Homo sapiens: one gene and its partner. The protein of the gene in region 1 interacts with the protein of each later gene in a pairwise test. Each region holds a gene or a part of one and is shown on either strand. Other genes may lie near its edges.

Region 1 (7,014 bases):
ATTTTTTATCAAATTTTGGAAAATTTTGGCCATTATTACTTCAAATATTTTGTATCACCTCTCCTTTCTGAGTCTCTGATTATACATGTTAGATAACTTTGTATTAACCATAGGTCACCAAGGCTGTGTTCATTTTATTTTAAACTTTTTTTCGCTCTGCACTTTAATGTAGATAATTATTTTTCACTGTTACTTTGTTTACTGATCTTTTCTTCAGCAGTGTATAATCTGCTGTTAAGCCCATAGAGCAAAATTACCAATTCAGATATTGTAGTTTTCTGCTCTAGAAGCTTGATTTGGTTCTTTTTATGGTTTTCATTTATCACATTATTTATGTTTCTTTAAATTCTTGGCCATATTTATAATAGCTTCTTTAAAGTTCTTATCTTACCTGCTTGTAACCCCAGTGCGCTGATGCCCTCTAAAACTTAAAAAAAAAAAAAAAAAAAAATTAAAGAAGAAAAGTGAAGTTCTTATCTGCTTTGAAAACTAATTTCATCATCCTTGTCATTTCTGGGTCTGTTTCTATTGACTGATTCTTCTCCCATTTGTGACTCATGTTTCAATGCTTCTTCACATGTGTAGTAATTTTTTATTGGATACTAGGCATTGCATATATTACATGGTTAAGTACCTGAATTTTGTTGTCTTTCTTTAAAGACTGTTAAGTTTCATTCAAGAAAGCAGTTAATTTACTTGCAAATCAGTTTTTTCAGCTTTGTTCGAGTGGGTTTAGAATAGTCTTTACTATTGGGCTAATTTAGCTTTAAAGTGTGGCCTTTTTAGGGTCTCTTTACCAAATGCTTCAGGTTTTAATAAGATTTAATAAGATTTCCCATTCTAATCAGTCAGAGCCTAAATGTTTCCAAACTCTATTCAAGTTCTTGTAGCTGTTCAGCTTAAATTTCCCCAGTAATTGTTATTTACCAGCCTCATACAATCTATCCTTAAAGTTATACCAAAGATTCACAGGAATCCTTATGTATATTTCTGGAGCTCTTTCTCTGGCACCCTGCCCCACAAATATCATTTGTCTCAATCTCTATTAATTCCAATTTCTGTGTCCTCAACAAACCCTGCTTGGCTTTCTTCTATCCTGTGCTTACCTCCAGAAAGAAATCTGTGGATATTCTGGGGACTCATCTTGTTTGTTTTCCTTCCTTCCAAGATCACAACTTTACTATGCCAGTTGTCCAATGCCTGGAAACACTTGTTTCATAGATTTGGTCCAGTTTTCCGTTACTTGTAGTGGAAGGTTTAGTCTGGTATCACTTATTTATTCATGGCTGGATTGCTCTTAACATTTGGAAAAACATAAACTTTCTATTCAATAGTAAAATACATACTGGAAAATTTCATAAATATAGCATACAGCTTGATGAATTTTCTTTTCTTTTTCTTTTCCTTTTTTTTTTTTTTTTGACACAGGGTCTCACTTTGTTGCTCAGGCTGGAGTGCAGTGGCACAAACATGGCTCACTGCAATATTGACCTCCAGGACTCAAGCAATCCTCCCACCTCAGCCCCACAAGTAGCTGAGACTACAGGCGTGCACCACCATGCCTGGCCAATTTTCAGAGAGGGTTTGGCCATGTTGCCCAGGCTGGTCTTGAACTCCTGAGCTCAAGTAATCTGTCTGTCTCGGCCTCCTTGGCCTCCCAAAATGCTGTGTTGGGATTACAGGTGTGAGCAAGCCACCATATCCAGTCCAGTGAATCTTCATTAATTGAAAACACCATGTAATCAACACCTGGATCAATAAGAACATTACTAGATCTCCAGTAGCCCCTTATTGCTCCTTTCTAATTATTAACACTAATAATTATAACTTATTGGTTACCCTTGGGTAACCAATATTTTACTTCTATTACCTTATATGATTTTTTATTTTGAACATTATGTAAATGGAATCATATAGTAATCTTTTTTGTGTCTGACTTATTTCACTCAATTTTTATGATTGTGAAATTCATGCATGCTTTGCATATGGTTGTAGATTATTGTCTTTCCTGTATAGTATTCTACTATGTGAATATTCTTCTTCCTTTTTTTTTTTTTTTTTTTTTGAGAAGGAGTCTTGCTCTGTTGCCTAGGCTGGAGTTCAGCGGCATGATCTTGGCTCACTGCAACCTCTGCCTCCCAGTTTAAGCAATTCTCCTACCTCAGCCTCCCAAGTAGCTGGGATTACAGATGCCTACAACCATGCCTGGCTAATTTTTTTGTATTTTAGTTGAGATGGGGTTTCACCATGTTGGCCAGGCTGGTCTCGAACTCCCAACCTCAAGTGATCCACCCCCGCCCCCGGCCTCCCAAAGTGCTGGGATTACAGGCGTGAGCCATCGCGCCTGGTCAGAATATTCTAAAATTTATTTATTTCATGAACATTCTTATACATATGTTTTCTGGTGAATATATGAATACATTTATGTTGAGTATATATCTAGGACAAAATTTATGTTAGTTCAGGCCTTTCTTCTGAACTCTAGACCTACATATCCAAATCTACTTGACATCTCCATTTATAGGCATTTCAAATTTAACATATTCCAAACCATTTGCTCCTCTTTCTGTGTTCCATGAGTCAGTAAATGGCTTCTTAATCCATCTAGTTACTTAAGGAGTCATCCTTAATATTCCTTTTTGTTGACCCTTCCCGGCAAACCAATCCGTTATGAAGTCCCTTGGATACCATTTCTAATTTATACATATCTTGAAATTATCTACCTCTTTCTGTCTCTAACTCCCATTACACTAGTTCAAGCCCCATCATTTCTGGCTTTGCCTGACGCAACTGCCTCCAAATGGCTTTCCAGCAGCCCTTCTTGCCCTTTTCCACACTATTCTCCACAAACAGCCTGAGTGATTCTTAAATATGCAAATAGGATCCTACTTAATAGTCTTTATTAGCTGCCCATTGACCTTGGGCTGAGATGAGACAAGGGCCAGACCATGCTGACTCTTATTGGCCACATTACAGATTTCAGGCTGTATTTTGGAAGATATCTTAAGGTCAACGGGCAAAGTTTCTCCTTGCTCCCTACACTCCATCCACACTGACTCCCTTTTAGTTCCTAGAGCACAAGAAGTTCTTTCATGCCCCGACAACCTCACACAATATTTCCTTGGCGGGGAACATTCTCTAAGGCTCTTCAATATGCCTGCCGCTTAAAAGGCACTTATTCAGAAGTCTTTTCCCTGATAGTCCAAAATTAATTGATCATTGCACCCACTAATTTTCCCTCCCAATACTGACAATTTGTAGTTCTGTAACTATTTATGCTTTAATATCTCTTGCTCCAATTACTCCTTAAATTCCATCAAGTGTTATGTCCACTCCTGTAACCCCGTGCTTAACACGGTGCTTGGCACATGGTAAACAGTCAGGAAATGCCTGTTTAATAATGCATGACCGATGCGAAGGCTGGAAGGGGTCGCAGGGTCAGCATCTGGCACTTCTCTGCCATGGTTAGTTTCCTTCTTGTGTGTGGGAATAGACGGGGCCAGGTCTTCTCCTTGCTCACCCAGAGGGGGCTTTTCTCCCTGTCCCCTTTATAAGTGTCTGCTGTAGGGCCGCGTGTGAGAGACAAAATGCCTGCAGAAACAGGGCGGCGAGCGGAAGAGATTGGCCCTATTTCTGAAGTCAACGTAGTTCTGTCATCAGAGGATGCTGTACTTTTCTGGCGCAGGTGCGAGAGAAGCTGCCAATCTCTCCTGGAGCGGGTGGGACTAAGGAGGGCCCCGGGAGCTGGGGGGTTGTTGTGTCCTTCCTGCAGAACCCGATTGGCCTGGGTGAGCTGAGGGAACGGGGGCGTGGTTTGATTCCGCGGGCGCGAGCCACGTTGGACGCGCCGCAGCGTCGCCGAAAGGTCCCTCCCAGGCCCCACAATGCACTTCGGGGCGCGTCACTCGGAGCGGCGGGTCCCGTCTCGACAGGTACTCCCCGGCCCCTCCCAGTCCTCTTCTTCCTTTCTTAGGGGTCGTTCGAATCCCTGCCGGCCTCTCCCCTCCCGCTCCCTGCCTCTCGCCACAGCCTCGGCCTTCGCCCTCGGGATTGAAGACCTACCCCACGGGCAGGAGCCAAGTCCGTGCCTTTGGGATGGGAGTCGGGGCCGCGGAGCTCTGGAGGGACGGGCAAGCGGGGACCCCGTCCCCTTCGACTTGAGGGTTCTCTGGGGCCAGGCGGGCGGCGGTTGCGCCTCGTCTGAGCCGCCTCGGGTGTTGGGCAGCCAGGAAAGGAGTGTTTGAAGGGGAGGGACAGTCGCACTTGGCTGTCAGCATGGTGGTGGGGATTCCCTGGCGCCCAGGTGTCAGAAACACGGTGATCTACCTGTGTAGGTGGCCCATGAGAGCTTGAGGTGGCATTTCCTATTTCTTTTAGGCAGAATGGGACTTGAACCAGTGTCTTACTTTACGTTTTGTGGGGATGGAGTGAGCCCTGAGCCCAGATATTTGCCCGCGTTGGCTCACGGAAATCTCTTGAGACCCTGTCTCAAGAGTCACTTTGGGAACGATGTGGCAGAAGGGAGACCTGAGCAATTGGCTCGGCAAGTGGAGGAGGCTTCCAAAAGAAAAGGACAAGCCCCAGCTGGCTTGAATCTCTCTGCCAGTGAAGACAGCTTAAGATAATTTTTCCCTGCTGCTTAGTTTCCTGGATCATCCACCTGGGGCAGGGGGCGAGCTTGAGAACCAGTCCCTCCTATGCCTATTCAGCCAAGGCAAAGCCTAGCCCAGAGCAAAAGTATCAGCCACCAGACTGGAGATGTTGGGATCTTCAGTCAGGGGAACAGCCACTTTTCAAACTCTGAATCACTTTCCATGTTACTGATATTTGCTTACATGCTAAGATTGTAAGGAATCAGGCAATGCCTTAAACGGTACCTACAATTTCTGATATATTAAGGTTCATTCAGTATTTGACTCTGACACCTGTGACCATATCCTAAAGTAATGGGACATTCGGGTATTTCCTATGTTGAAAACCATCACATCTGTTTAGTGCCTTTTTTTTTTTTTTTTTTTTTTTTTTTTTTTTTTGCGTGCAACTGGTTAAAATCGAAGTATATCTTATGTTGGTATATGAAAGAGGCCTAGGTCTTATCACAGGGGTGCCTGTGACCTTCCTTGAGTGTCTCACAGAGTTGTTAGAATTGGGCCTGAGTTTAAATCCCTACTTTGTCACCTACTCGTTTAGGGATTAAAAAAAATTCCTCAAGCTTTCTGGGCTTGAATTTCCTCAAAGGTAAAATGGAACTAATAATACCTATCTCACAGGTTTTTGGAACGCTTAAATGAGGTAATGTGTATAAAGTGCGTGGTCCATGGAGAGTAATCAATAAATAATACAGCAAATATTTAATGTAGTGCTTTTAGCATGTTACAAGGCAATGTTTCAGGCACTTTACATGATCCTATGAGATAGATACTATTGTCATCTTTAAAACAAGCCTATGAGATAGATGCTATTAGTAGCCACAATATATAGATGTGGAAATTGAGATATAGAAAGGCAAAGCTTGTCCAAATTTACATGGCTGGTAGATGGTGGAGCCAGGATTAGAACCCAGGCAGCAAGTGAATAGATAGTTTCTATATCCCTGGTTTCTTGTGTCTTGTTGGTTTTGGGAGACTGATGAAGCATAGTGATGTAGAGATACTAGAAACTTAGACCGAAGTACCAGTTCTGCTATATACTAGCAGTGTGACATTGAGAAAGTGAGCCTTAGTTTCCTCATCTGTAAAATGGTGGTTTTACCTACCCAACCGTGAACTATGTGGCACTATAAAAATGTTGGGATTGACACATTTGAGCATGTATTGGGGGCCCTGTCCTAGATGTGGGTAAAATCTGTTGTGAAGCCTGAGGTCTTATACATACTGTGCAGTGCAAGCACCCATAATAGGAATGTCGAACACTGCTAGTGAGGTAGAAGGCATAGGCAAAATGGCGGAAATTCCATCCCCTTTATCACCCACTCTATCCCCCACCCTCAGCGAGCACTTTTAATAAAATAATATGTACCATATTGGTATTGTTTCCCAAACTTTGGTACTGTCACATATGCAAGATAATTTGATAAGCAAATGAACATTAAAAAATTCTCCCCAAATTTTCACACACATACATATTTGAATGAAACAAGTTCATTTAATTTAAATTAGGAGAAAAACTTAACATCTCAAAACTGATTTCACAGATATTATTGCTAAAAAATAAAGGACAAGAAAAGTAAGTCAATTCAAAGACCAATATTAGGTAAATAGTACAGGTGGATGAAGATAATTCTGAAAGTGGTACTTGGATGACTGAAGACTGGGAAGTTATGAACTAAAATAAATATGAGTGCTTTTGCCCCCAGTATAAAATGTTTTTATCTTAAAAGTGGCATTTGTGAAAGCATTTGGTTAGAACGTATATACAAAATCCACTTACATGTTGGGCTTTGTTTATTACCTTTTGAGAGATAACTTCCTGAGACATTGAGCCTGTAGTCATTACCCCTACAAGGTTCTGAAGAAGAGGGGTGTCTTATTATCTTGGGTCCAGGAACTTGCTAACCACTACTATAGTAGTTTGGCATTGTGGGAATTTATTTTCCTCAGCCTTTACATAAAAGTTTACCCAGATTTACCTAGATTCTAGCTTGTGCTTTTTCCTCCAACAGTTGCTGATGGGGAGAGGAAAAAATAGCCACTATTCAGGTTCCCTGTGAGTTAACTGCTGCTGTACAAAGGCAGGTGTAATATTTTCTCTGTATTAAAGGTGAGGAGAAATGGCCCAGTGCCCTAAACATTTATCTATGGCCCCGATAAGCTAAAAACTCCTAAATCTTCCCATGCAATTGTTGTAATCTCTTGCTTTCCACAGTTCCACTGGTTCTTCCTTGGGATTTTCCCAACCACAACCCTCCTTAAGACCTTAAAGATACTTTAACCTAGCTTAGGCCTGACATGGACAGATTTCCTTTTCTGCTAGCACAGTCCAGATAAGATTAGTTTAAAAAAAAACAAACTATAT
Region 2 (7,505 bases), on another chromosome or scaffold:
CAAGGCGAGTGGATCGCCTGAGGTCAGGGGTTCAAGACCAACCTGGCCAACATGGTGAAACCCCGTCTCTACTAAAAATACAAAAAATTAGCCGGGCGTGGTGGCAGGCACCAGTAATCCCAGCTTCTTGGGTTGCTGAGGCAGGAGAATTGCATGAACACAGGAGGTGGAGGTTGCAGTAAGCTGAGATCACACCATTGCACTCCAGCCTGTGTGACACAGCGAGACTCTGTCTCAAAAAAAAAAAAATTAGAATGGTCCTGATGTGGAGCTAATGGACCCTATGGCCTGTGTGTGAGTAGGAGGTATGCTACCATCTGAAATTTAGTGTGTTTTAAGTCTACTAGTGTTTAAAACTATCAAAACAATACTAATGGCTTTCGCTTATTGAGCATATACTATGCCCTGGGACTGCTGCTAGGCACTTAGTAGACATCATGTCTTTGAATCTTCTCAACAACCTAGAATATAAATATCAGTATTTTCACAAGTTTTATGATTGAGGAAACTGATACATTAAACTAACCTGCCCATAGTCACACAGCTAGGTCATCAGGAAAGCTTGAACTTGGTTATGAAATCTGTTCCATGGCTTCAACCGAAAACCTACATGTAATCTGAGGAAAGGTGGAAAATAAAGTATCTGCCAAAGAGAGTGAAAGTGACTTCCCCCAGGCCACCTCACCTGTACCAGAATTGTTTGTTGTCTGACAACTTTGTGTTGGATAATTCTTAAGAAAGGATATAGGCTTCAAGTTTCTCAATCTTCTTTTTCTTTCTTTCTTTTTTTTTTTTTTTTGAGATGGAATCTTGCTCTGTTGCCCAGGCTGGAGTGCAGTGGTATGATCTCGGCTCACTGTAACCTCCACCTCCTGGGTTCAAGTGATTCTCTTGCCTCAGCCTCCCCAGTAACTGGGATTACAGGCGTGTGCTAACACACCTGGCTTATTTTTGTATTTTTAGTAGAGATGGGGTTTTGCCATGTTGGCCAGCCTGGTCTCGAACCCCTGACCTCAAGTGATCTGCCCACCTCCGCCTCCCAAAGTGCTGGGATTCAGGCATGAGCCACCATGCCCGGCCTTGTTTCTCAATTGGGCTGCCAGACAAAACAGAAGGTGCCCAGTTAAATTAGAGTTTCAGTCAAACAATTTTTCAGGTAAAAGAATGTTTTAGGGCCGGGAGCAGTGGCTCATGCCTGTAATCCCAACACTTTGGAAGGCCGAGGCAGGCGGATCACAAAGTCAGGAGTTTGAGACCAGCCTGACCAACATGGTGAAACCCTGTCTCTACTAAAAATACAAAAATTAGCTGGGCGTGGCGGCACATGCCTGTAATCCCAGCTACTCCGGAGGCTTTGGCAGGAGAATCATTTGAACCCAGGAGGTGGAGGTTGCAGTAAGCCGAGATAGCGCCACTGCACTCCAGCCTGGGAGACAGAGCAAGACTCCGTCTCAAAAAAAAAAAAAAAAAAAAAAAGTTTTAGTATAAGCATGTCCCATTCAATACATGGGCTGTACTTGTACTTGTACTAAAAAGTTACCCATTATTTACCTGAAATTCAGATTTAATTGAGTGTCGTGTGTTTTTATTTGCCAAATCTGCCAACATGGGGAGCAGAGGTCAGCAAGGTTCCAAGTTGCCCCTGCCTCTTGTTATCAAGAGTTTAGGGTCTTAATCTGTTGCTAAAAAAATTTCACACATTTCTTATTCAGAGGCTGGTATTCCTGGCAGCTCATTCCTGAGGCCTAAAATAGTTGTTTAAGCAGAGCAACAGTTTCAATCCTTGGAGGCTACTATAGCAAAGTACCAAAGTCTGGGTGGCTTATAAACAAGAGACATTTATTTCTCACTGCTCTGAAGGCTGGAAGTTCACAATCAGGGTGCCAGGGTGGTCTGGTTCCAGTGAAGGCCCCCTTCCATGTTGCAGGCTGCCAACTTCTCATTGTATCCTCACATGGTGGAAAGAGGGTAAGAGAGCTCTCTGGGAGTTATTCTTATTTTATTTTATTTTATTTTATTTTATTTTATTTTATTTATTTTATTTTATTTTATTTTATTATTTTATTTTATTTTATTTTAATGAGCCAGGGTCTCACTTTGTTGCCCAGGCTAGAGTGCAGTGGTGCAATCTCAGCTCACTGCAGCCTCCACTGCCTGGGCTCAAGAGATCCTCCTGCCTCAGCCTCCCATGTAGCTGGGACTACAGGCATGTGCCACTATGCCCGGCTAACTTTTGTATTTTTAGTAGAGAAGAGGTTTCGCCATGTTGCCCAGGCTGGTCTCGAACTCCTAGACTCAAGCAATCCACCCACCTTGGCCTCCCAAAGTGGTGGGATTATAGGTGTGAGCCACTGGGATCTCTTTTATAAGGGCACTAATCCCATTTAGGAGGGCTTCACCTTCATGACCTAATCACCTCCCAAAAACCCCATGCCTAATCCCATCACATTGGGGGTTAGGATTTTAGAGGAACAGACATTCAGTCCATTGCAGCAAGTAATTGGGAAAGCATAGGAGAGGCTGCGCGTGGATTTTTTTAACCCAACCACTGCATGTTCCTTGAGGGCCAAGTCCTGATGCTATGGAGAGATGCTAGGATCCCAGCCCTGGAGGAACACATGATGTGATGGAGGAAGCATCTATCACACAAAGACAAGCAAAACTCTGCTGGCCCAGCCAAAAATGCCAGAGGTGGAAGGAATTTGAAGATTCACAGAGACGCCCCTAGATGGCACTCTTAAACAAAAATCCCAGTGGAAACCCTAACTCAGCTTTCCAAAGCAACTTCCATTTAGGGAATGATGATTGGAAGGCTGTAATCTAAGGAAACACACACACACACACACACACACACACAATCTTTTCCTGGGTGGGGAACCCAGCATTTTGCAGCTGAACAAAGTGCATGACGCCAGACAAGATTGGCTAAAACTTAAGAATTTAGGGATTCTTGTCTGTCCTATCCCCACCATTAGCTCTTCTTTCTGCTATTGTGGAATTACAGCAGGATTCTGTGGTTTATCATATCATTGTCGTGATCATCATCATAAATCATCATCCCAAGCAAATATTTTTGAGCCCCTACTCTGTGCCTCAATAGGTGCTAAGTTCTCGACAGCCACAGCCACACTATTGCACCAGTCCTCACTACAACCCTGTGATTGCTTCTTTTTTTTTTTTTTTTTTTTTGAGACAGGGTCTCACTCTGTTGCCCAGGCTGGAGTGCAGTGTCTTCACTGCAACTTCTACTTCCCAGGTTCAAGCGATACTTCTGCCTCAGCCTCCCGAGTAGCTGGGATTACAGGTGCGCACCACCATGCCTGGCTAGTTTTTATATTTTTAGTAGAGATGGGGTTTCACCATGTTGGCCAGGCTGGTCTGGAACTCCTGGCCTCAAGTGATCTGCCCACCTCAGCCTCCCAAAGTGCTGGGATTATAGGTGTGAGCCACCGCACCCTGCCAGCTTTTTGTTATCTAAAGACTTATTTTCCAGGTTGCTATGGCCACAGGCAAAGAGGAGAGGTCGGTCAACACAGGTCCCTGTCTGGAAAGTGGCTGAGAACTGTGCAACAGCAGACCAATGGTTGGGCTTATCCCTCTCTCTAATTTATGGTTGAAGCCATGGTTCAGAGAGGTTACTTAGTCACACAGTAAGTTGCCATCATGCTCTATAGCAGTGGTTCTCACCTCGGGACGATGGGGCCTTCCAGGGGACATTTGGCAATATTTTGAGACACAACTGGAGGTGGGGGGGGGCGGTTCTTGTAACTGGCATCTAATGGGTAGAGGCTAGGATATTGCTAAACATTCTACAATCCACAGCTCAGAAACAGAATTATTCCGCCCCAAATGTCAATAGCATACTATTCAGAAACCTTACTCTATAGGGCAGATTTGGGGCCAGGGGAAACAGGGGCTCCTGCTCCGACTTGGATCCATGCAAACCGAGGAATTTGGATTGATTTATCTTGTCTCTCTCAGCCTGGACTTTTTCATGTGTAAAATGGACATCCAATCCATCTGAAAGGATCTCACTGGCTTATGACATTCGCATTTGAGCAGTCATGGTTAAAAACTTCCAGCCAGGGTGATACTTCATCACGTGTGTGTCTTGAGCGCCAGAGACGTTCCAGAGCAGCTGGTTTTAGGCATACAGGAGGGGAAACCCTGACACCCTTGGAAAACTCATTCTCGGCTGCCAGTCTGCCTGTCTTGAAGGTGGTCTGAGCTTTCTCACTCCAAGCCAGTCGTGTGGGAAGGGACACTCTCTGAGCCTCAGTTTCCTCAGCTGTCAACCTCTCAGGGCTTGTTCTAGTGGCTCCGAAAGCCAGTGGGAGCGAGCGCGCTTTGCAAAGCCTTGGGCGCCGGGCCTTGGCGCGCCTTTGCCGGATCCTTCCGGCCACGGGCGGGGCGAGCCCAGAGGAGAAGAGCCGAGGGGCGGTGCCCGGGCCAGGGGGCGGAGGCAGGCGGCTCTGGCTCCCTCTCGGGACGCTCTTTCCTTCTTCCTCTTGTTCCTCCTCCTGCCTCTCTTCGCTTCGCCTGCAAACGCGGTGGGGGCTGCTCGGCGGTCAGGAGCAGGTGAGAGCTCGGAGCTTGGGGGTGGGGGTCCGGGTGCCCCGGGTGGCTAGACCCCTCTCGCCGGGCGGGGACAGAGGAGGAGCGCGGGGGCGACGGCGTGAGCGCGCTATCGGGGTCCCACGCCCGTAGCTTTCTGCCCCGGGGTTAGTGTAAGGGGCGTCTCCTGCTTATGAGTCGCCGGGACGGGGCTGGGAGCGCACGAGGAGACACGATTCCTCCCCACCCCTAAATGCACACTCACCCCGCCACCCCCCAACACACACACACATACACACACACACTACCACTAGATTAGGTAAAATGGTAGCTAGCACCACCACACCCCGAGACTGTGCCCCTTTCTGGGGAACCTGGGGAAGACGTCGAGGCAAACCTCCCTAGGATTATTGAAAACGGGCGCCTTCCTCACCACCCAGCCCCTCTTCTCCACCGAGGTCCCCTTCCCCATCGCTGCAGAGAGATCTGCAAGTATCAAAGGGGGCTTCTTTACCCCCAAATTAATAACTAAGTACTCGACTCCCCTCTGAGTTCCCATTATTCAGTCTCTGTGCCTTCTGGGACGCGGACCCCCTCTCCACCTGCATTTCACTCCCTTCCTCCTCTCCTTGGGTCTCCCTGGCTTTTGAACGCTGAAAGGCTGGGCCCGGATGGGGAGGGGCGGCCAGTGTGAGCTCGAGGCGCCCTGTAGCTCCCATCCCCCAACCAGAGATGTGACCCCTCCTCCCAGCTTGAACTTTCGAGGTAGCCGTTTTCCCCTGGAGGTTCGGGGGTGGGAGGGCCAGGAGATTTATTTGGAGCCTTGGAAGGGGAAAGGGTTAGCTGGTGTTGGCCTGGCCCAGTCCCCCAGGCGTGAAGAAGGCGGGGCACTCCTTGGCCGCGCCGGGTTCTCGCTTTCCCTTCTCGGGAGACAGCTCCGTGCCTGGGGAGGCCCCTCCGAGGAGTGAGTGACCAGGGGGTCTGGGAATTGGTGGCCAGGTAGACGCATTTGAAGGCTGTGGCCGATGGCATTCGCCCCACGCACTCTCTCATCGGACTCCCCAAACCGGTCTGGGTGGCACTTGAGGCTCCCAGGCCAAAGGAGACCTGTAAGGGGAACTCCGCTTGTTTCTGCTTGCTGCAGAGATGAGATTATGGGAACTGAGTGCTGGGAACATCCCAAGTTCAAGACCTACGCCAGAGGCAGCTTCAAAGAGAGAATGTGGGGTGGTGGGATTAGTCCCCTCCTCAACTTTCCCCTCCAAAGGGTTTCTTGTTTTACAAAAGGGAAGTAGCAGAGGATGTCTAGCTGGGATGATTAAAATGTGCTTTAATTTGCATACTAGACCCTGTACAGCTTAGTAGTAGATAAAATTACCCCCTATATGATAAATAAATGTGAGGATCTCTCAATTAATTTTGGCCACGTGGACACAATCTTTTAAGCATTTGTACTGTAGGTCAGGTCAGTTTAAAGGGAGAAATGGAAAAGATATCTCTGTGTCCAGCCAGTTCTGGGAAATATAAAATAAGAATGATTTTTTTTTTATATTTGAAAACTCAACAAGGGTTAAAAAATATATCTAATTTAACCAATTGCCTTTATTAAAAATAAGTAAAAATTGTATGAGATTGGGACACCCCTCAAAATTCCAGGCAGTTTAGTTAGAGTATAATTACTGTGGTGAGGTCTGCCCCCGAGGTGCAGTTCTCCTTAGCAGGGATAGACTTACCCACAAGTAAGTAGATGATGATGTATGGAATGATGGAATTGGGAGCCAACCTGTACAGTAATAAAGAAGAGAAACAGGTCAAGGCTACTGTTGTACAAGGAAAGCTTTCTAGGGAGAATAAAAGGCAATGAGATTTGAAATAGTGTGTTCAGCTTTCTTGCTTTCTGTATATTTTCAGCATTTTGTCAAGCTAAAAAATAAACATAAGCTGTCAGAGATAATACTATTAACATTTTATCATCTTTTTTTAAAAGTATCATACACATCTTTTCACATCACTAAACAGTCACACTATCATTTTAATGACTGAATTTATCATTATTTAACCAATTTTCTCCTAATGGAAATACAGTTAGCTACTTTCCAATGTTTTGCTAGTCATTATATGTTATAAACAGGGATGCAATGCACAGCCTTTTAGTACATTTTGAGATACCTGTTGGATTATTTCCATCATGTTCCTGGAATATAAATTCCTGGATTGAAGTGTGTGCAATCTGAAATTGTTGTGAATATTGCCAGGTTACCCTCCGTCTGCATGCCCACCATCAAGGTATGAGGATGGTAGAAGCTCTCGTCGAACCAGATGGATGAAGACCACTAACGGCTTTTGTTTCCTCTGGTAACAGCAAGAGACAGAGCGACATGAGAGATTGGACCGCGGGCTGCACTGGAGAATTTACTGGTAGGATAATTCATCCCTAAAGAGATTGAAGTGAGCTTCAGAATGGCAAAAGAGGAGCCCCAGAGTATCTCAAGGGACTTGCAGGAACTGCAGAAGAAGCTGTCTCTGCTGATAGACTCCTTCCAGAATAACTCAAAGGTCAGTTTCCAATCACTATGTATAATGGAAAATCCCAATATAACACTAGCATAAACAAGATAGAAAGTTATTTCTTTCTCCAGTAGAAGGAATTTGGAGGTAAGTCAAGAATCTTTCTGGCTTACCGCCCTGCCATGTCTATGCTGTGACCTTCAAACTCCTTGTCTGAGATGACTGCAAGAGCATCAGCCATTGTATCCATCTTTCAGGCAACAGGATTTGAGGAGGGGGGAAGAGAGAAGTGCAAGCCACCTACAATTTAAGGAGACTTCTGGGAGTCGCACACAATACTTCCAATTACATCCCTTAAGCCAACATTGAGTCATTTGCCACTAATGGCAAATGCAATTCTTTAGCTGGATAAAGAAGTCTGTGCAACAGATATCATCCTTTTT

What was found. Proteins that work in one complex are often made in the same cells at the same time.
Region 2: the proteins of SEC22A (region 1) and LDAF1 interact in binary tests that used the Homo sapiens proteins (3 or more experiments, as listed by UniProt).

The regions. Positions count from the first base shown.
Region 1 is NC_000003.12:123,198,055-123,205,068, forward strand, and holds the start of SEC22A (vesicle-trafficking protein SEC22a), read left to right. Parts: upstream 1-3,888; 5' UTR 3,889-3,932; exon of another isoform or gene 3,933-4,080; intron 4,081-5,034; exon of another isoform or gene 5,035-6,759; intron 6,760-7,014. UniProt on the Homo sapiens protein: May be involved in vesicle transport between the ER and the Golgi complex.
Region 2 is NC_000016.10:21,154,169-21,161,673, forward strand, and holds the start of LDAF1 (lipid droplet assembly factor 1), read left to right. Parts: upstream 1-4,505; 5' UTR 4,506-4,578; intron 4,579-5,156; coding exon of another isoform or gene 5,157-5,273; exon of another isoform or gene 5,274-5,291; intron 5,292-6,809; exon of another isoform or gene 6,810-6,916; 5' UTR 6,917-7,014; coding exon 7,015-7,110; intron 7,111-7,505. Other genes in the region: DNAH3 (dynein axonemal heavy chain 3), read right to left, coding at 5,157-5,273. UniProt on the Homo sapiens protein: Plays an important role in the formation of lipid droplets (LD) which are storage organelles at the center of lipid and energy homeostasis. In association with BSCL2/seipin, defines the sites of LD formation in the endoplasmic reticulum.